2 separate regions of the Homo sapiens genome follow, and region 1 is linked to region 2. The links come from fine-mapping of genetic effects on plasma protein levels. A gene starts in region 2. The other region holds a variant in brackets. All regions are shown on one strand. Distances are from middle to middle.

Region 1 (11,004 bases), 24 kb after region 2:
CCCCTTTCCCCAGGTGTGATCACCAAAAAGCTTTCTAGGCATTGTCAAATGTCCCCTGGGGAGCAAAATCATCCCTGGTTGAGACCCCTGTTCTAGGCATAGATTATTCCAATTGTCTTTGTGTTTCTGGGTAGGTGGTCCTTTTCTATTTCACTATTTATCCCTCTTGCCCTTAAAACTTTCTCAGAAATTTAAGAAACCCTCCTTCTACAACTAAGGCTGACTGTTTTGTGCTCTGGGGAGAGTGGATAAATTCCAGGAAGGCTGCAGCTTGGGTTGCTTCTCTGGGGATGGTGGAGCCAGCCTAGAGAGTGAACTCGTGTCGTGTCTGGAGCTAGGGAAGCACATGGGTCAGCATCTGTGCTAGCTCTCTGGAGAAAAGCTACTGGGAAGGTGTATAAAGCAGCCTTGCAGAGAGCTGCCAGCCTGGCCGGTGCTTTCTGAGAAGCATATTCCTTCTGTGGAAGGAAACATCGATCTATTCACTTCCCATCCTTGTCAGAATCTGGATAGGTGAGGTTCTCTCCACAGCCGCCTTCTCATGCCTGCTCCACCTTTGCAGTCAGTGCCGAGGGGAGCCAGGCCTGTGCCAAAGGCTGTGAGCTCTGCTCTGAAGTCAACGGCTGCCTCAAGTGCTCACCCAAGCTGTTCATCCTGCTGGAGAGGAACGACATCCGCCAGGTGGGCGTCTGCTTGCCGTCCTGCCCACCTGGATACTTCGACGCCCGCAACCCCGACATGAACAAGTGCATCAGTGAGTGTGGGCAGGGCTGTCGGGGGCAGGGGGCATTAGAAGCTCTGGACTGGGGGAGAGTGCTTTGAACCATTGGTGGCTGGCAAGAGGAGCAGAGGGGGCTCTGAGGAGAGGAGATGAGGCTCCGATTCAAGTATCCAGCCGCACACTTCCACCTTGGTGTGTAAATATCAGAACCCTGTCTCCTCCCTTCGCACCTGCCCCTACCTGTATTCCCAGAGGTCACCCTCCATGTCCCAACCTGTCACCCAAGCCACAGCCCTGAGTGCCAACCTCTCCCACCCCATCCATCCAATCACCAAAGCCTGCCTGTCATCTCCTGTATGTCCACACTGCCACTGTCCTCCCCAGGCTCCCAGCACCTTGCTCCGGGATCATTGCAATAGCCTGTTCATCTGTCCTCCAGCCTTCATCTGGTTCCCTGAAACCCATCTTCTGCACTTCAGCCAGAAAGACGCTTCTGAGACACACACCCTACCCCATCACACTTCTGAGACACACAACCTATCTCATCACACTTCTGAGACACAGAACCTATCCCTATCCCATCACATTTCTGAGACATACAACCTATCCCATCACACTTCTGCTTAAAAACCACTGCTAGCTCCACATGGGCTGCAGGGGAATCCAAGCCCAGGCAGCCTGCTCTTCCACTCTCTTCTCTCCCTGGTCTTCTGACTCCTCATTTCCACAACAGCTACAGCTCCACATGCTCCAAGGCACACGCTACCATATCTCCATCCCTTCTCTGTAGATGCAGCTGTGATGTGCTGGGGGACACGTGTGAACACACTCGGGGGACAATGCCAGTGCCCCCACCACTTGTTCAGTGCCTTGCCATTTAGAATGCATTTGCAGGTCTCATATCAGTTGAGCCTCACAACAACACTGGGAGGGAGACAGGACACAATTGATGGTGCCCTTTTCAGGGCTGACAACATTCAGGCCCGGAGGGTAAATGACTGGTCCAAGACTAGACTGGACCAGTCCAGCTCAGAGTTGGTTCTGAGCTCAACTCTGCTACTTCTTCATTGTGTGACCTTGAGCACATCTCAACCCCTCAATGCCTCATCTTTGTTTTTACCCCCTAGGGTTGTTGTGAGACATGCATGTAAAGCCCTTAGTGTCTGGCACTCAATGAATGGTAGCTGCTATTGTTCTTATTTTTGTTCTTATTTGACTGGCAACCAAACCCAGGAATCAGAGCACCAGGGAGGGAAGGAAGGAGGGAAGGAGAGAGGTGAGGCTGAGATAAGCCTGGAGGATGGTGGGAGTTTGTGAGGACAGAGGTGGGACCCTGGGAGCTACCCTCTTGGTCCTCATGGTCCTTAAAGTCGGGAGCTCCTGGCTACACCAGCTCCTAGGAAACTGGCAGCATGGGCTTCAGGTGGCAGAGCCTGGGAGGAAGTCAGCCCCGCCTGCACTCTGGGAAGGAGAGATTGTGAAAGACCCTGCCTGCTTCCAGCCAAGCCCTGGAAGACCCACCCTGCCCCCATTCCCCCAGAGGAGAGAACTGGCAGCAGGGAATCAGGGAGGGACCCAGGAGTCCTACCAAGGTTGTTGCTGGAACTCAGCCTTGCAGAGGCAGAGGCATTTGCCCTGGGATGGCTTACCCCTCCTCCATGCTGATTCTTTCTGCCAGGCAGGAGGAGAACCACAGTTTGGGACATTGCAGATGCCCAGCAATGAGGGAAGAAGAGATCATGCAGCCACTCTCTGGGGGGCCATTCTGTCCCTCAGTTCAACTCTGTTTAGGGTGGCCCTCTGGATGCTGTGAGATGCTGAAACTCTCCTGTCCCACCCCCACCAGGCCCAGACGGCCCCACCCTCCGCCTCTGAAACTGCTCTCTTGAGCCTCACCTTGGGCTGCAGGGACTGAGACTGGGTTCATGATCGAGTTGGCTGATGGTGGCAAGAGTCCCAGCCAGCCTTCAGGAGCAACCGCTTCAGCTTCTTCTTCCCTGGCCTGCCACTGCCCTTCCTTTCCCTTTCCTCCCAAGATTCCTCTGCAGTACCTGCAGCTCTAGGCCAGGGTCCTGCCCTCCATGTAGGTGGGTGTGGACAGAAGGGAGGGTATTGGGGCTGGGGATGAGGGGAAACATTCTCACCAGGCTGGGCCAGAAGCCCCCAATCTGTCCTCTCCTCAGAATGCAAGATCGAGCACTGTGAGGCCTGCTTCAGCCATAACTTCTGCACCAAGTGTAAGGAGGGCTTGTACCTGCACAAGGGCCGCTGCTATCCAGCTTGTCCCGAGGGCTCCTCAGCTGCCAATGGCACCATGGAGTGCAGTAGTCCTGGTAAGCCATGGCAGGCACTGTGGGCAGAGGGTCCAGGACCCCAGAAGGAGGGGCCGGGTAAGGGTCTGGCAAGAGAGCGGGTGGGCTGGGGCACTGTGCAGGGAGAGCTTACCCTACCACTCCTTTCTGAGTCTCCAAGGACTTTTCTGCCCTCTGGACTAAAGATACCTGCAGCCTCAGGTCCAGGCAGAAGGAAAGTGGGAGATGCTCCCCTGGGCTATTCTGGGCCAGAGGAGGAGACATGATCCCCTCCTCCTTGTCCTTCTCTCCCTTCCCTTCTCTTCCTGCCAGCGCAATGTGAAATGAGCGAGTGGTCTCCGTGGGGGCCCTGCTCCAAGAAGCAGCAGCTCTGTGGTTTCCGGAGGGGCTCCGAGGAGCGGACACGCAGGGTGCTACATGCCCCTGTGGGGGACCATGCTGCCTGCTCTGACACCAAGGAGACCCGGAGGTGCACAGTGAGGAGAGTGCCGTGTCCTGAGGGTGAGCTGCAGCCTCTGCCTCCCTGGGGTCAGGGCTCAGGCACCAGCCATGACAGGTCCTGCCACCTCTGCTTCCTGCCCACGGCTCAGGAAGAAGCTTCAGGGCAAGGCCAGATGGGGCACCCGCAACTCAAGACCTCATGCTGTCCAATCCAGATGCCATGTCCTGGCAGAGAACAGGGCCTCAGAACTCTGCATAGTGGAAGCTGGAAGCTTCTGTGGTCAACATCCTTCCGGTTCCCCCATTTCTTCTGAGCTAGTGGATGTTCATACTAGAAGGCCCCTCGGAGGCAGGATGGGT[G/A]GGTGAAAAGGGGCACTAAGACCCAGAGGGGTGTAGTGATTCCACCAAAGTCACACAGCCTGCAGTTGGCAAGGGGTTGGCTGCTGCTCTTGCCTGGCCCCAGAGGTGGCTGGTGGCGGATAGGGGATGGGGGCAGTCCTGCCTGTTCTGAGAGTTGCACTGAATACCTGGGAAGTGCTCTTGGTCCATTGGGATCCAAGGTCTGAGGAATCCATGAGGAAGAGGATGATGTCTTGTGTGCCTTGAGGGTTGGGGAGTGAAAGGGCTCTTGGGCTGCCTCCCAGTACTCAAGCCTCGGGGTCCTCTGAAGTGGCTGCTGTCAGAGGAGGTCACGATGACCCAACTACCTAGAGGCAGCATCTCCAGCCTCCTCCCTGCCTCCCCTTCCGGCTTCCTCACACTCCCCTCCTAGGGCCTGTGGCCATGCCCAGGGCCTCCCTGCACATCCTTTGTTGATTCTTCCTGCTGTTTGGTTGTTTCAGGGCAGAAGAGGAGGAAGGGAGGCCAGGGCCGGCGGGAGAATGCCAACAGGAACCTGGCCAGGAAGGAGAGCAAGGAGGCGGGTGCTGGCTCTCGAAGACGCAAGGGGCAGCAACAGCAGCAGCAGCAAGGGACAGTGGGGCCACTCACATCTGCAGGGCCTGCCTAGGGACACTGTCCAGCCTCCAGGCCCATGCAGAAAGAGTTCAGTGCTACTCTGCGTGATTCAAGCTTTCCTGAACTGGAACGTCGGGGGCAAAGCATACACACACACTCCAATCCATCCATGCATACATAGACACAAGACACACACGCTCAAACCCCTGTCCACATATACAACCATACATACTTGCACATGTGTGTTCATGTACACACGCAGACACAGACACCACACACACACATACACACACACACACACACACACCTGAGGCCACCAGAAGACACTTCCATCCCTCGGGCCCAGCAGTACACACTTGGTTTCCAGAGCTCCCAGTGGACATGTCAGAGACAACACTTCCCAGCATCTGAGACCAAACTGCAGAGGGGAGCCTTCTGGAGAAGCTGCTGGGATCGGACCAGCCACTGTGGCAGATGGGAGCCAAGCTTGAGGACTGCTGGTGACCTGGGAAGAAACCTTCTTCCCATCCTGTTCAGCACTCCCAGCTGTGTGACTTTATCGTTGGAGAGTATTGTTACCCTTCCAGGATACATATCAGGGTTAACCTGACTTTGAAAACTGCTTAAAGGTTTATTTCAAATTAAAACAAAAAAATCAACGACAGCAGTAGACACAGGCACCACATTCCTTTGCAGGGTGTGAGGGTTTGGCGAGGTATGCGTAGGAGCAAGAAGGGACAGGGAATTTCAAGAGACCCCAAATAGCCTGCTCAGTAGAGGGTCATGCAGACAAGGAAGAAAACTTAGGGGCTGCTCTGACGGTGGTAAACAGGCTGTCTATATCCTTGTTACTCAGAGCATGGCCCGGCAGCAGTGTTGTCACAGGGCAGCTTGTTAGGAATGAGAATCTCAGGTCTCATTCCAGACCTGGTGAGCCAGAGTCTAAATTTTAAGATTCCTGATGATTGGCATGTTACCCAAATTTGAGAAGTGCTGCTGTAATTCCCCTTAAAGGACGGGAGAAAGGGCCCCGGCCATCTTGCAGCAGGAGGGATTCTGGTCAGCTATAAAGGAGGACTTTCCATCTGGGAGAGGCAGAATCTATATACTGAAGGGCTAGTGGCACTGCCAGGGGAAGGGAGTGCGTAGGCTTCCAGTGATGGTTGGGGACAATCCTGCCCAAAGGCAGGGCAGTGGATGGAATAACTCCTTGTGGCATTCTGAAGTGTGTGCCAGGCTCTGGACTAGGTGCTAGGTTTCCAGGGAGGAGCCAAACACGGGCCTTGCTCTTGTGGAGCTTAGAGGTTGGTGGGGAAGAAAATAGGCATGCACCAAGGAATTGTACAAACACATATATAACTACAAAAGGATGGTGCCAAGGGCAGGTGACCACTGGCATCTATGCTTAGCTATGAAAGTGAATAAAGCAGAATAAAAATAAAATACTTTCTCTCAGGGAGGTGTCTCAGAGGATGTGATATTTGAGCCTAACTCTGAAGGATGGGTAGAAGGATTTAAGACAGACTGCTGCTGTCCAGTAGAAATATGTGAGCCACATATTTAATTTAACATTTTTGGGCCGGGCGCGGTGGCTCATGCCTGTAACCCTAGCACTTTGGGAGGCTGAGGTGGGCAGATCACGAGGTCAGGAGTTCAAGACCAGCCTGACCAACGTGGTGAAACCCCGTCTCTACTAAAAATACAAAAATTAGCCGGGTGTGGTGGTGTGCACCTGTAATCCCAGCTACTCGGAGGCTGAGGCAGGAGAATCACTTGAACCCGGGAGGTGGAGGCTGCAGTGAGCCGAGATCACACCACTGCACTCCAGCCTGGGCAAAAGAGTGAGACTGTCTCAAAAAAAAAAAAAAAAAAAAAAATGCCAGGCAGGGTGGCTCACGCCTGTAATCCCAACACTTTGGGAGGCAAAGACAGGAGGATCACTTGAGCCCAGGAGTTTGAGACCAGCCTGGTGTGCAAAACAAAATTAAGTAATAAAAAAAGAAAATGTTTTTCTAGTAGCCACAGTATAAAAAGGAATGAGGTGAAATTAATTTTAATTACATCTGTTATTTAACCATATATATGCAAAGTATTATCTTTTTTTTTTCCTCATAGAGATGAGGTCTCACTATGCTGCCCAGTCTGGTCTTGAACCCCTAGGCTGAAGCGATCCTCTTGCCTCGGCTTCCCAAAGTGCTGGGATTATAGGCATGAGCCACTGCATCTGGCCCCAAAGTATTATCTTTTTAACATGCAATCAAGGTAAAAAATTATTAGTGAGATCTTTTACTTTTTTAAAACTAAGTGTTCAATGTTCCATGTGTATTTTTACACTCACAGCATATCTTAATTTGGATGCTAAATTTTCAGCAGAAATACCTGATCTGTAATTACATGGCATAAAAACTAAAGTTGAAAAAGAAGATACACATACCCAAGTTGTTTTGAGAATACTTACCAGTTTTTCTGTAACTGAATGATGTATGTTTTTAAATTTTAAATTTAGCCAATTAAAATTAAATAACATTAGCAATTCAGTTCTTCAGTTGCACTAGCCATATTTCAAGTGCTCAATAACCACATGTGGTGAGCGGCTACCATGTTGGACAGCACAGTTCTACAGACATGCATATGCAATTGTCCTGTGACAGAAAATAGTTTGGCCAAGGAACTGAAAGAAAGCCAGTATAGCTGGAAGGTCTCGAGGGCAAATGAGTTCAGATGATTCTAGAAAGATTGCCTGGAGTTGGCCCTTTATTCTCAGAGCCAAAGGAGGCTACTGAAGGGTTTTAAGCAGTAGGCCAAAACAAGCAGATTTGCATTTTGCAAAGATCATTTTGTCTGTAGCTTGAAAGACAGATTAGGGAGGGGTTGCTTAGGAGGCTGTTGCTGTCATCTAGGTGAGAGATGTTGGAGATTTGAACTAGGGTGGTGGCAGTGGAAATGGAGAGAAGTGAGCAAAATCAAAAGGTATTTGGGGCATAAAGTTGACAGAATTTGGTGATGCATTGGATGTGGAAGAGGGGAGAGACGGGGAGGAGTTATCAAGGATGAAATCTCTTTTTCTGACTCAAACACCCAGACAGATGACAGTGCTGTGTTCTGAGGTGGGAAACCTGCGAGGAAGACCAGTTTGGGAGAAGAAGGAAGAACATAAATCTGCTTTCGACCACGTTGAGTTTGTAGTACCTCTGAGACATCCTGGTAAAGATGGTGAGCAGACATTGCTTAGACATAAACACAAGTTTAGTTGTACAGGCGGAGTTTGGGATGGAATGTAAACTGGTGTACAGAAGGCAATTGAGGCTGTGGGTTTGGAAGAGCTCAACTGAAAAGACAGCACTGGTTGAAGAGAGGAGTCTGGGCCCAGCTCTAATATAAAGTCCCTCTAAATATAAAGATCAGATCACAAACGGTGAGTTAAAGAAGGAGCAGGCAAGAGGAAACCCAGGGGAATATCAGGTCCCAGAAGCTAGCAAGAAGGAGGGAGAGATCAAGCAAAAGAGGACTGGAAAGTGACCATTGGACTCAGCAACGTGTGCCAACAGAAGCTTAGCAGCAGTGTTTGGGGAGGGTGATGGAAACAGACAATTCCTTAGCTGTGAAAAAGAGGAAGAGAAATAGGACAGGAGCTAGAAAGAAATATGAGTCAAGAGAGACCTTTTTTCTTTAGATGGGAAAGACTTGATGGTATTTAAAACCTTCTGGGAGGGGTGCACTTAAGAGAAAGCAGTTGAGTACACAGGCAAGAGAAGGGGAAATCAGTAGTGGAAGGTTCCATGGGGAGGGATGGCTCTGCAAGAGCAAGGAGAGAGTGATGCAGGTGCGGGAAGCCTGGGAGGTGAGGAAGGTGGGGGATTTCATGTCTGTGCACCTGCAGGTCTTGTCCCGTCTACACCTGTGATCTTCACTGCCAGTCACAGACCGCCCACAGCCAGCTCCAGCCCCTCTTCACTCACTCTTTACCTTGTCTCCTCTCCTTGACCCTGGCTGTGTTTTTGCAAGTCTCTCTGTGCCATCCATCTTCCATCTCTGTGTTCCCTCTGCCTTTGCCCCTCTCTGCGTCTCTAACTCTGTCTTCTCGGTCCCTCTTTTTGTCACCCTGACCTTCTCTGTTCCCACTTCAGCCTCTGACTCTATTTTTGTGCACCATTGATTCTCTTTGTCCTTCTGTTTCTCACTTTGGGGCATCAATCCTCAGTCCCAGTATGTCTTGGCTGTCTTTGTCTCTGATTTGTCCCTGACCCTTAGGCTCTTGCTCCTCAAAGTGTGGCCATGGACCAGCGATCTTGGCCTCATCTGGAAGCTGCTAAAAATACAGAATCTCTGGCCTTACCCAGACCTAAAGAATCTGATTCTGCCTTGTAAGAAGATCCCTTAGTAAATTTGTGCAGATATTTAACAATTTGAGAAGCACTGTCATAAGCTTTCCTCTACACCAACATCAAAGCAGAAATCCAGAATCTTAGCAACATCAAAGAATGAGCTGGATCCTCCTGTATCTCCTGCCATCAACTCTGTGATGCTCTGAGCCATCCCGCTTCTCTGCATCGCATCTTTGAGCCACCTAAAGCTGCTCTTGAGGCCCTAGGCAGCTAAGATAAGGAACACAGTATGGGTTTCAGGAAGTCCTGAATCCACTGATGTACACCCCACACTTGAGCTTCTACATCTGCAGAATTACTGGCAAGATCATCTGATACTGATACACTGGGTGCTTTCAGATGCGATCCCAGTACATTCCTAAAAAACAATTAGCCCCACCTGGACCTACTCCTGTCTCACTCTGTCCTGTCTTTAGCTGGAGAGGGGTGTGTGTTTCAAAACCTGCTCACAACCCTAGAAGCAGCCCACCTGAGGCAGAGACCATAAGGGCTGAGAGCAGCCCAGAGTTGGTCCAGACATCACACCTTGTGCTTTTTAGGATGACTGAGTGCTGGAGAGAGGGAATCTATGTCAAGATATGGAGCTGCCTAACCCTATTCCCAGGTTTAGGCAACAACAGCACATGATTGTATGTAGTTGTTACGTGCCCACATTGTTATTTGGAAAATGTTAGCTTTTTCCTCTACGGGGCCACAGATTTGCCCAGACTAACACATTTCTGGCCACCGTACACAGTTCCAGCTCTGGTATGTTTCAGATCAAATCTCCAGAGTGTAGATTTGTTTTCCATTTCAATATTTTGGGTGATGGGGTTGTGTTTTCCGGATTTGTTTACTTAAGTGGGGATTTTTTTCTTTCTGGTTTGTTTGGTTTGGTGTAGGAGGACTGAGAGGGAATTTAGGAAAAGGGTCAGCTTCTTGGGCTCTATTACAAGTCCCTGATGCAGGGCCAGCAACCCAGGTGCTGGCTTTTCGCGTCTCACTTCTCCAGCTGTGGTCCAGACCAGATTTAAATGGGCAACAGGTGGAAACCCAAGTGAACAGTGATAAGGTGGGAGGAAAACAATCAGAGGGAACAGGTTTCATTTTTAAGGACTAAATGGATTCATTGCAAAAGGTCTGGAATACTGTCTAGTACTGCCAGTAAAAGTGAGCCAGAACAAAAGCCTAGTTATAGGGGAGTAGAGAAGATCTGAAGATTAGGTCCTCAGGGGTTGCTGAGACGTGAGCATACCAGGGTTGGGTGCACCTGCTTTGGTGTGGCGCACCTTCTGGCTCTCCCAAGAGAAAGCCAACACACGGGGAACAATAAACAGGTTTTGGCTGGAGGCTTGGTTGAAGCTCCTTTAGCATCAAGAATGTGAGGCCGGGCGTGGCGGCTCATGCCTCTAATCCCAGCACTTTGGGAGGCTGAGGCAGGAGGACAGCTTGAGGCCAGGAGTTCAAGACCAGTCTGGGCAACATACTGAGACCCTGTCTCTACAAAAAGACAGAGAGAGAGTGACCTGCACTAAATAGACCCTTGGGTGAGCTGGCATGGATGGGGACAGTGGGAGAGTTCGTAAATCTGGGCCCCTTCCTTTCTCCGTCACCGCTAGCCTACCAGGTTCTTGGTGACGAGAGACCCAGGCCAGTGGCTAGAGAAGGTGTCTTGGGTTCTGCCCTAGAGCCTTCCAGAACTTAAGTAGGAAATTGCGAAACAGGGCTACATTTTGAAAGAGAAAGTATGTGAAAAATGGTTCCTCCCTCGCTTGTTCGCTCTCCCGGAGCTTGGTGCAGGGAGGTGGGTGAGATGGATTCCTGGCTGGACTCAGTCTGGTGTGGGAAAGAGGCAGAACTGAGTCCTTAGGGGCCTCTCAGGCCAGGTCTCTGCAGCTGTCAGCCTTCGGTTATTGATCCTTGTTATTGGGATGCACTTTTTCCATCTGTTGAGCATCAGCCTGGTCCATGTAGAAGGCCAGCTCCTTCCTCTGGCTGAGTTTTGTCTCCTAAAAGTCCAGCTTCTGAGGGCTCCCTCTGCAACCCAATATGTACCATGGACTGCTGATTAAATACTTGGAATGTCTTCAGGGTGAGCCAGGCCTGTCCATAAAATGGGAGGCATTTTGGCAGTTCCAAGGCCCCTGGCACCCAGTCTTGGCCCTCGCCTGGCTGTCTTCTTCAAGGAGCTGCGGTGGGCCTCCCGCCA
Region 2 (11,621 bases):
GGGGTTTTAATCTGATTATCTGGATGGCTGGAGATGCTGTTTATGGAGATGGGAAAGACTGAGGGAGGAGCAGGTTTACAGATGTCGGGGGAGTTGGATAAGATCATCAAGCCAGCAAGTGGCAGACCTGGAACTAGAACTTGGGTGTCCTGACTCTCAGACCCAACATATATGGATCTGTGAGAAAGATTTCACTAAGGAAAGAGTTTGGGATTTTTTAAGTTAAGATTTATTTAGCACCTCCTCTATTAGTCAGGGTTCTCCAGAGAAACAGAGCCAATGAGAAAGAGAGATTAAATTTTAAGGAATTGGCTCGCATGAGTGTAAAGGCTGGCAAGTCCAAAATCTGCAGGGATAGGTTGGCAGGTTGGAGACCCAGGGAAGAGCTGGTGTTGCAGTTCAAGTCCAAAGGCAGAATTTCTTCTTGCTCAGGGGAGTTCAGTCTTTTCCTCTTATGGCCTTCATCTGATTGGTTAAGGCCCACCCACATTATGCAAGGTAATCTGCTTTACTCAAAGTCTACTGATTTCAGTATTAATCCCATTGAAAAAATACTTGCAGAGAAACAAAAAGCATAATGTTTTTTTCCCATGGCCTAGCCAACTTGACACTTACTTTTCTTACTATTGGGCATTGTGCTTTTTAGCTATATTAGTTCATGGTTGACAAGAAAGGCAGATGGCGGGGAATCACCCTGGGTTTGTCCACAGTTAAGGGCTAGGAGGGGAGGTGGACAGATATACAAGGAAACAGGAACCAGGACAGTGGAGAGAAGCATTCCAAGAAGGTGGAGGTGTCAAGAATTGCAGAGGGATAGAGAAGGAGGAAGACAAAGGAACCACAGAATGCGGTGATAAGGAGGTTTTTGGTGACCTTAGCCATGGATCATGCAGGGAGAGTGAGAACTGTGGCAAGGAAGGGGGCTCTTTCACATGGAAGGATTGGGAACTGGAGTCTAGTACAGAAGCATGCAAATAAATGGCTACAAAACGCAAAATAGGGCCAGGCATGGTGGCTCATGCCTGTAATCCCAGTGCCAAGGTGGGATTGGTCTTGAGGCCAGGAGTTCAAGACCAGCCTGAGCAACACAGTAAGACACCATCTTTACAAAAAAAAAAAAATGTAAAATTTTTTTTTTTACATTTTGGGCATTGTGACACGTACCTGTAGTCTCAGCTACTTGGGAGGCTGAGGTGGAAGAATGAGCTATGATTGTGCCGCTGCACTCCAGCCTCAGTAACAGAGTGAGACCCTGTCTCTAAAACCAAAATAAAACCAACAAACAAATACAACATACACTACAACAGAAAGGAAGCTGTGATATGAAATAATGGGGGAGCTACTCAGATGGAGAGGTCAGGGAAGGCCCTTCTAACAGAATAATTTTTAAGTGGAGATTCGAAGGAAGAAAAGAGGCTAGGCACAGTGGCTCACACCTATAATCCCAGCACTTTGGGAGGCCAAGATGAGAGGATTGCTTGAGCCCAGGAGTTCGAGATCAGCCTGGGCAATATAGTGAGACCCCCGCCTCTATTAAAAAAAATTTTTAATCCAAAAAAAAAAAAGGAAGAAAAGAAATGCCCCATATGAAGAGCTATGGGAAGGGCAAGATGGCAGAGAACCTGTGCAAAGGCCCTGAGATGAGAAAGAGTCTGGAATTACCAAAGAACTGAAAGAAGCCTGGTAGGGCTGAAGCCAAGAGAGAGGCGATGTATGAAGCTGGAGGGATGTAGCCTTATAAGGGATGGTGTTTGAATTTGGTTCTAAGTGTGATGGAAAATCACTGGAAGGTTTAAGCAGGGGAGTAAATGATGGGACCTGCTTTATAATTGTTAATTTACTCTGGCTACTGTGTGAAGCCTGTGTTGGTGGGGGACAGAGTGGGAGTGGGGCAACCTGGAAGGGACACTAACAATTGTCCAGGTAAGCGGCAAAATTGGCTTAAAGCAGGAAAGTTTCTGGGGGCAGATCCAACAGAATTTGCCAGTAGAGTGGATGTGGGAGGTGAGAGAGAAGAATGCAAAACAACTCCCAGTTTCTTGCTTTATCAGTTTCATCGCTGTTTCCAAGGAGAAAAACTGGGGAGAAAGAGGTTCTGTGCAGGGCCCAAGAGTTTAGTTTTAGGAGCAGGGAGTTGAAGGGGCCACTCTTGGCCATCTTAGCTGCTTGATGATGGGGGCTGGGACGGAGTGAGAGGCTGGGAGAGGCTGGAAGGGGAAGTCTGCACGGTCATCCGTGGGCTTGCTGAAGCCCCAGTGGAGGCTGGCTGTGGATTTGCAGTGGCACTGTCTCAGGTAGCTGGGGGACTGTCCAGAGGAGCTCAGCAGGAACTGGCAGGGGGTTTGTGGGGCAGTTGAGATGTTGAGGCAAGGCCAGTGCAGAAATCGTTATCGGGCAGGTGAAACGCCAAGAATCTGAATTAGAAGGAAGGGCATGAGAGATTGGGAGCAGAAGGTTAGAGTGGGGGGGTCTGAGGATCTTGAAGCCTATGATTTCAGGGATGGAGTAATTTGGGTGAGGTCAAGAGGGGGTGGCCATGTGAATGGGAGGCCAAAGTGGAGTGGACAAGAGTATCGACCTGGTCCAGGAGGTCCCAGAGGTGTTGGGCGTAGCACTGACATAGAGAACGAGGTCCCCAACGTGATGCTTGAGTCTGCCACAGAGAAGAGGACCTCGAGACAGATGCCAGGGTCCTGTGTGAGCAAAGAAAGCACAGCAGGGCATGGGGGAAATAACTCAGGTGAAGAGAGCAGGGAGGTAGAACAGGAGGAACAGTTACAAAAGGGAGGGCAGGGGGGCGGTGTGGAATGAGGCAGATGCCACACCCTCGTGCAGGAGAATGAGTGGTATTGCCAGACTTTGTTGGGCAAAGGGGATGGCGTCCCTGGTGTGTGTTAAAGGAGCCTGAACTCACTCACAACAAGGTAGAGAATCTGAGAAGTGTGTTTCTGCTGGTATGGGGCTTCCAGAGGACACAGCAGACCCCCTGGGAGGAAAGTGGAGAGAAAGGAACAAGGAAGAGCTGGGCAGTGTTCTTGGGAATGATCTACTTTATTATTGCTCACTGGGGCTCCTCACTCCCTTCAGTCTCGCCTCTTCAAATTCAGCCTTCACCAGAGCTGCAAGACACTCCTAAAGCACAACTCTGGTCCTGCCTTTCTGCCTCATCAACACTCAGGGGCTGCCCTTGCCCTCAAGGTAAAGTTCCTGCTCTTTGGCCTGGTACCATAAGGTCCTTTTGGAAGCACCCCATCTGCTGCCCTCTTCCCCGCCTCACCTCTCTCATCCGAAATCCCCACGAAGCAGAACTACTTATAGCACTAAGGGCACCACGATGCAGCAGGCCTCCGGGCCTTTGCACCTGCCATTCCCTCTGCCTGGAATGCCTTTTGATCACATGTGCCTAGAAAATGCCAATAAATCTTTCAAGCATTTCTTCCCTGGAGAAGCCTTCTCAGATTCCCTCAAGGAGTCACAGTCACCCCTTATTTTGTCCCACCACTCTACCTCATTTACCCTTTCACCAGGCTCTTGAGTCGGCCTTCCTCACTAAACCAGGAGTTCCTTAGGAAGACAGTGTGATACTCATTTCTCTATCCTCCATTTCCAGCCCTGTGCCTGGGATACAATAGTGCTTGGTTGATATCTAATAAAGGCACTGACCAAATTATAGCTAATAAGAAGAGCCAGCATGTACTAAGTACTTACTATAATTCCTAACATTGTGCCAAGCTCTTTAAATGCATTATCTTATGTCATCCCTGTAAGAACTGTGGTGGGTTAATACTGTTACTATATGTATTTAACAGATGAGGAAACTGAGGCTTAGGGAGGTGAAGTGACTTGCCCAAGGACATTAAGCTAGTCAGTGGTAGAGATGGGCTTCAAACTCGGCCGATACTAGTGTCCATGCACTTAGCTGTTATGCTATATTGCCTCAATGAAAGAAAGGATGACAAGATCTAGCCAGGGCAGTGGCTTACGCCTGTAATCCTAACATTCTGGGAGGCTGAGGCAGGCAGATCATTTGAGGTCAGGAGTTCGAGACTAGCCTGACCAACATGGTGAAACCCAGTCTCTACTAAAAATACAAAAAAAATTAGCTGGGCGTGGTGGCGTGCCTGTAATCTCAGCTACTTGGGAGGCTGAGGCAGGAGAATCGCTTGAACCTGGGAGGCTGAGGTTGCAGTGAGCCGAGATCGCATCACTGTACTCCAGCCTGGGCAACCGAGCAAGACTTCTTCTAAAAAATAAAAAAATAAAAAAATAGAAAGAATGAATGAATGAATGAAAGATTTCAGAGAACAGCAGGGTTATGAAGACTAGAGTTTTCAGGGGAGCCTATAAATTGACAGTAACAAAGTCAGCTTTTTCTAGAGTAACAGTAATGATCACAGATGCCAGTAGTTTCCAATCCAAAAGCCCTTCTTCCGTGCGGACAGAGTTCTGCTTTTGTCTGTGAACATCCTCCCAGTTCCTTAGGAACTCACTGCAGTGGAAGAGACCATCATTGGCCAATGATGGGTGGTGTACAGGTCTACACAAGGTTTGGAGGCTGACTTTCGAGGTGGTCAGGCTAAACTTCATACAGGCCTTTTGAAGGATGACACAAAAAGGATTAGAGAAAAAGACATTTCTTTTTTTGAGACGGAGTCTTGCTCTGTTGCCCAGGCTAGAGTGCAGTGGCGTGATCTCGGCTCGCTGCAAGCTCTGCCTCCCGGGTTCATGCCATTCTCCTGCCTCAGCCTCCCCGATAGCTGGGACTACAGGCACCCGCCACCACACCCAGCTAATTTTTTGCAATTTTAGTAGAGACGGGGTTTCACCGTGTTAGCCAGGATGGTCTCGATCTCCTGACCTCGTGATCCGACTGCCTCAGCCTCCCAAAGTGCTGGGATTACAGGCGTGAGCCACTGCGCCTGGCCGAGAAAAAGACATTTCTAAGCAGAATGAACAGCATATGCAAATTTAGAGCAACACAGCTTTCCCAGGGAAACAACTCATTTGGCATAACCTGAACTGGGCTGGCCACTTGCAGGCTGTGTGTCTCTGAGCAATTGACTTGGCGTCTCTGAGGATCAGAATTTACATTTATGGGAAAAAAGGAAAAAAGAAAGGAACTACAATAGTTGCGAAATTAGGTAACAGAATATATGTGCAAAACACAGTGCTTGGCATACATTAGGTGCACAAGAAACATTCTTTCTTATTCACCCATTATTGTCACATGGTTCTAATTCGTTATCTTCTGTCACCCAGGTGGCTTTCTTCCCTTTCTCACTCATTCCTGAGCCTAGTAACGAGGCCCCCCAACTTCCACAGACTTTTCCTCAGGCAGGAAACCCGAGCCCACTGCCTGGCCTAGGACAGCTTCTAGGGCTGTGTGGTTTGTGTTATTTCTTCTCTTTTCTCTCTCTCTCCCTCTTTTTTTTCCTAAATGCAACAAAATAAAACCAAACAAAAAGCCCAATGCCTGGCGTGGCTTGTCAGAGAGTTATGCAAGTGTGTAAAAAAATAAAATAAAATAAACATTGAGTTTTCGGCATTTGGGGCTGTTTGATTAGACACAGAGCATAGCCAAGGGCCGGTTAGACGCAGGGAAGGCTCAGGGCAGAGGTGAGAGAGGAGGGACTTGAGTGGGGGTTGGAGGTTGGAGGGGGCCCCTGGACCAACTCGGAAATGACTGTTTGCCTCCTGCAAACTTGGCAATGCTCTGGCTGAATGAACCCAGACACTGGGCATTTCGGACCCAACTGCTCCACTTTCTCTGGCTATCCACCATCCCTGTTCCCTGGCCATTGGGACACTCTAGGGGTCATTACATCCATCCTCCTGTCATTGTAAACGACCCTGTGCCCTTAACTCAATAGTCAGGGCTCCCCCCTTCTCTCCTAAGAGGGAGATTCCACAGCCTGTCTTGATTACTCACCCCCCCTATACACACACACAATCAGTACATCTTTTCTGCTCTAGCTTAACTCCCACTAACTACAGTTTTAGCCCATTTTCCTTTCCCAATCTGAAGTGAAGCTGGAGAACAGCTGTTTGTCACTCTAAGAAGTGAGTCTCCTTCCCTCCCTTCTTCGGGCTTGACTTCAACATCATCTGGGTCACTGCAGGTGTCTGTAGCCGTTCAAGACTCATTCCACAAACATGTATGGGGTTCCCACCATTAACCAGAAGTTTGTAGCCTTCATTTCATTGAACCCTCAGAACAGATGAAGCCTTGCGATTCAGAGAGGTTCAGTAACCTAGGCATGACCACACAGCTGGTAAGTGATAGAGCCAGACATGAATCTAAGTGTTATTGTATGATCTCCCTCACTCTCACCTACCAGCTGCCTCTGGAGGTGTCCTCACCTCGGTGCCCAGGATCTGATAGCCTTGGTATTTCTTCTGAACTGGGAAGATGCACAGAAGATTTGACCCTGAAGGGGGAGAGGGTGTGGTCAAGACCACCAGGCTCTGTGGAGCCTGTTCCTTGTCACTTTCCAGGTTCCTGATGGGGAAACTGGGGTTTTCATGAGGGTCTCCGGCCGCGTTCTGACGCCAAGATGAGCGGAGTTGTTGCGGGTTCTCTGGCTGCGTGGAATCCCCGGGGCGCGGGGAGGGGCAGGGGACAAAAGCAGAAGGTCTGCCCCAGGGTCCTGGGGACTTGTCCCTCCGCCAGCCCCGCGCTCGGAGCGCAGAGCGCCAGCTTCGGGCAAGGACGTGTGGACTCCCGGGCCGGCGCTCCAGTCCATTTTTTCTTGCGGATCCCTGGAAGGGGGGCCGGCTCGCGGGGGGGACTGCGAAGGGGGGGATTCCCTCCCTGGTGCTCGCAGAGGACTGGCCCCTCTCCGGGCTGGGAGCTCCGGCCGAGCGGAGGCGCGACGGAGAGCACCAGCGCAGGGCAGAGAGCCCGGAGCGACCGGCCAGAGTAGGGCATCCGCTCGGGTGCTGCGGAGAACGAGGGCAGCTCCGAGCCGCCCCGGAGGACCGATGCGCCGGGTGGGGCGCTGGCCCCGAGGGCGTGAGCCGTCCGCAGATTGAGCAACTTGGGAACGGGCGGGCGGAGCGCAGGCGAGCCGGGCGCCCAGGACAGTCCCGCAGCGGGCGGGTGAGCGGGCCGCGCCCTCGCCCCTCCCGGGCCTGCCCCCGTCGCGACTGGCAGCACGAAGGTGAGTCCCCTCGTAGCTGCCCCATCCTTCTCCCCAGCGCCCCCTTCCCCGGGAGCTGGGGCGCGGCGGGCCCTCCCGTCGGGGCTGGTTCTAGCTGGGTGCGTGGGGGGAGACAGAAAGGAAGGGGAGTCTGATCGCTCTCCGGTCGGCGATCAGGACAGGGCACCTCCTGCACCCTTCCTGCAAGTCTGCCGCCCCCGTCGGCCCTCAATCCAGCAGGCAGCCTCTTCCCCTCGAACTCCCCTCCATCCCGCAGCCCCGGGTGATCATCCTCACTCGCAGTCCTGAATTCCCCAAGTCCACCAGCCCTGTTTATACCCCGCCTCCAATCCAGAAGTTCTTGATCCTGGGGCTCATTGGCTCGGATTCCCCCAAGTCCCACGGTCTCTGGTGACCCCCACCCCAGTCCGCAGCCTGGGCCTGGGTTCGACGTGGCAGGCGGCATGCGCTGCGGCCCCCGGTGCGCAGCGAAGTGGCGCGGCTCCCTGGCCCTCGGGGTCTGGCGCTCAGGAACCGATGGTATCGCTTAGTTGGGGAGAGGTGGGGGCTATGTTCGCCCGGGACTCCCTGGAGGGCCGGGACAGACTTGGAGTGAGTGTGCTTGGGGGCAGGAGTTTTCTTGTGAAACTGGCCTCTCAGACGTGGACAGCTCTCTTGGCTCTTGAGGGCCAGCCAGGGGAACCTCAGGTCCGCGTCTCCCTCGGCACCTGTTGGGGCCTCTGCGGGATGGTGGGGGAGGGAAGAAGAATGTGCGCGCTTGCGGGGGTGATGGAGGGGTGAAGAAGCCATCCTCCGCTGCCCTTGCTTTTGGAGGGGGGGCACGGCCCCAGCACCTGGCTTGGCTCCGACAGACAGGCTAATCCCGACAGGTCGGACAGGCACATACTTTGTCCCGCCCCCCGCCCGCAATTCTTCTGCCCCCGCCTGCCAGCCTGCTGGGCGGCCAAAACTCTCCAGCCTGTAGCCCGGCCCGGGGAGGGCTAATGCGAAATTATCTAGATAGTTTACATTTTTGGGTCTGTATCGGGCCCCTGATGGAGTACCACTTTATTCTGACGGTATTGCAGGCAAGAAGGTGAAAGTGATTCCAGCCCCCTCCCGGGGCTGAGTTTCTGCCCTCAGCTCCACCTCCAGCTGTGTCCCCCTCCCCGACCTGTATACTCCCCTCCGAGGCCCTTGTGGCCTCTCGCTTTGGTCTCCCTTCTCAGCTCTGCCTCTGCCACCAGCCCCGTCCCCACTTTGCAGGTCCACTCCCCAAGCTGGGTTGTGCCCCACACTCAGCAGCTCCCAGCGGGTTGCCCCGCCCTCCCCACACCCAGTCCTGGGTAGCAAACCTGAGGGCAGGTCCCTAACTGGGTCTGTAACCCCTGGGACACTTAACCATTCAGGGCCAGGTCTCTTCCCCTGTAAAATGGAAATAATTCTACCTTCCTCCTTCCATTGTGAGGAGTAAACGAAGACCTGGCACATGGCAGGTGGAGGGAGGCATCTAACAAGTGTGAATCCCTCACCCCCACAGTGGCAGAGAGAAATGCCCTTTCTTACCCCCACCAATAACCTGAGGCACTGCCAGCAGTCCCCATTCTATCTGTGTAGAGTGAGCCTCAAAAACATAAACTGCCAGTGCCATATAGCCCATGGCTCAAAGGAAATCAGACAGAGGACTCTAAAAGAAATGAAGCAGCCTGCTTAAAAGGGAGTCATCAGCTCATATCTCCTCTCTCAGCCCTAGCCCATGCTGTCCATGTCTGCAAGAGTGCATGCCTGTGTGTGCGCATATGGGGTCAGGGACTAGATGCAGGAATGTGGAGCCACTGAGGCAGGGACCTGTGGCCCTCTGAGGCTTGGTGCTGCAGGGTTCCTAGTCCGAGACCTGTCCAGCATTTCAAATCAGATTTCATGTAAGATCCTGGATTTTCCACTCCTCTTTTAGAAAATCAGAAGATCTTTCAACAATCAGTCAGAGCTGAACGGCATATGCTCCCTTTAGATGGGGCATTTACCCTCCAGTTTACCCCCTCCACATCCAGCTTCAATCATATATGTCATTTGTACCCCCTGGTATAGAGGAACTCTTAGCCCCTTTACAGGGTTGATTCTATATGTACATTTTCAAAAAGTGCTTGCAACTCTTCCCATCCCAGAGGTGGGGGAGGCCAGTGTCACTTGCTTCAGTGAAATTTACATCTGGATCCTCCTTACGATTTTCCAGCTGAGATTGTGGTTTCCTGGTGATTCAGGTGGGAGTGGGCCAGAAGATCACCGCTGGCAAGGACTGGGTGAGTGTGGCAGGGGTCAGCTGAAAACTAGGACCTGGGAGGATTGAGAAGGAATTTAGAGGGAGAGGAGAGGGAGGAAAAAGAAGGGAGCTAACATTTGCCGAGCACTCACCCTCAATTGCCAGGCACCATGACAGGTTGGCACAAGGAATGCAGAGATGCATAGGGGACATTTTGTGCCCCAAAAAACCCCAGGGATATTGATCACGCAGTGAGTCCAAAGTCTTTCAGATCCAGGGTTAACACCAAGTTTGTCTAATGCAGTGTTTGTCAACTGTAAGGACTCATGGAACAGATCTACCAGGGATTCTCAGACCTTAGTTTGAGAAATGCTGCAATTAAAGGCAAATCCTATCACTCTGAGTGATCGCTTTGGTGTCGAGGCAATCAACCATAAAGATAAATGCAAATATGGAAATTGCATAACAGTACTCAGTATTAAGGTTAGTATCCAGATGATACAGAACATGTTCATATTGCCTTTTGAATGATTATTAGAATGTAGACACAAAGTGAAGCTTTGGTCATAACAAATACAGCAAATATTATTGAGTCATCACTGTGTGCCAGCACCATTCTAAGCAGTTTTGTGTATTAACTCATTTAAGTTATAAACAACAATAACCTTCATGCAGATAAGAAAACAGGCTCAGACCAGCTAAGCAAGGTAACATAGCTAATAAGTAGCAGAACCAATATTCAAATCCAGGCAGTCTGACTCTGAAGTTTATGCCCGTGACTATCATGCTGTACAGCCAGCCTCTGAGACTACAGACTTGGGCCAGAAGACCCCAGTTTGATAAACTCAACTGGACATCTATAATCTGTGGGTGAGAGAATTGTGTAGTGGGGGCTGGGGAGGATAGAAAGGCTTTGGTAAATCAGGCAGGGAGTACTGGAGGGGCGTGCAGGGGTTGGCAGCTGACGGGCATTTGGGGGTAGCTGGGGGCATCTCCTCTGGCTCAGGCCACAGCACCAGGTGGGATCCATCAGCCTCATGTAAACACTTCTCACAGGCAGCTTAACCACTTGAGTGTGTCTGGCCTTCAAAGCCAGCGGGAGAGGCCAAGGAGGGAGGTACTGAACTCCCTTAGGGGATAATGATTTATCTCCCGTGCAGGTGGGCTCTGCTGGGGCCTCCCTGACAGGCGAGGGGGTGGACTGGCACTGAAGAGCCTAGAGGGGAAAGGATTAGGACAGGGGGTGGGAGGGGCACCTCCACTCCAGCACCTCAGATTTCTCATTCCTGAGCCTGAACTCTCTGACTCTCAGCTAGCCTGTGACATAGTCATGCTTGTCCCCATTTTATAGATGTGAAACAGGTTCAGTGAGGCTACATGACTTGTTCGAAGGCATCTAGCCACTGGAGGGGAAGGTGATGGCTCCCTGGCATCTACAGAGACTCTGTGCTATTGGCCTGCATGCTCTGTTGTGGTGTGGGTGTGTGTGGGGGAGTGTGGGGTGTGCGTGGGCAGGCCGCTGCTGTGGAAGAACCTTGAGAGCATCAGAGCATGTGTGTGATCCCGTGACGGGGAAGCAGGGTTTTCATTCTCACTCCCAGGTTGGGCTCAGATGTCCAACTTCCCAGACACATCTGATCAGGGGAGGGACCGGCTCCCCTGCCCCCATCACCCCAGCCGGCCAGCGGGTCCAGAGACCTGGCTCTCGCTGGGCTGGGGGATTATCCCCATTCTCTGTGTCTCTGGCCAGGGCGGGCATTGCTGCCTCTTTTATCCTCTCACAAAGGCCAGGCCCGCCGGGCCTGCTGTGTCAGAGTTTCTGTGGCCGGGGGAAGCCTTACTTCCTTTTCTCCCGCCAAGCCCAGAGGGCCAGGCAGGGTCTGCCAGCTTGCCGGGGGCCACTGCTCTAACTCCAGGACAGGTGAAAGGCACATGGGTGACTCAGCCCCGGGAAGAAAAGGCTGAGGGGTCACTCATGCAAGGACAGAGAGAGAGAGAGAGCTCCTCTTCAAGAGACAGGATACTACTGCAGCATGAGGTCTGTAGGGTAGACTTAAGGAAGGACTTCCAGTTAGAGCTGGACAACATGAAGCAGGGGTGGGACCAGCTGGCTCCCGTTATTGAGAAATCATCAGTGATCCACAAGTTTGGTTTGAATGTCTGCCATATTCTGGCTACACAGGTTGCCGGCTCCGGTCCCAGGTTAGGGAATTCTGTAAGAC

Alleles and levels. Positions count from the first base shown, and alleles are read on the strand shown. Strength reflects both the effect of a copy and how common the allele is.
For the plasma level of the protein whose gene starts at base 6,834 in region 2, allele G in region 1 goes with a higher level than allele A (weak association).

What was found. PIP is the posterior inclusion probability: the model's chance that the variant is causal. The UK Biobank Pharma Proteomics Project read protein levels with antibody pairs (Olink). The fine-mapping took linkage between variants from a reference panel, not from the people measured, so its PIPs are less certain.
Region 1: its variant is fine-mapped to the plasma level of the RSPO1 protein (UK Biobank, PIP above 0.99).

The regions. Positions count from the first base shown.
Region 1 is chr1:37,606,234-37,617,237 of GRCh38, reverse strand. It overlaps RSPO1 (R-spondin 1), which reads left to right. Exons shown (of 7, transcript NM_001242908.2): 4 at 563-754; 5 at 2,905-3,054; 6 at 3,346-3,534; 7 at 4,317-5,888. The coding sequence ends at 4,483. Among named protein-coding and RNA genes, the nearest start is that of GNL2, 16 kb to the right of the region's middle. The variant G/A (reference allele first, on the strand shown) is at 3,835.
Region 2 is chr1:37,630,105-37,641,725 of GRCh38, reverse strand. RSPO1 (R-spondin 1) reads left to right here and starts at 6,834. Exons shown (of 7, transcript NM_001242908.2): 1 at 6,834-7,160; 2 at 9,373-9,439. RefSeq lists enhancers at 6,433-6,959, 6,960-7,487, 8,016-8,543, 10,552-11,065, 10,967-11,136.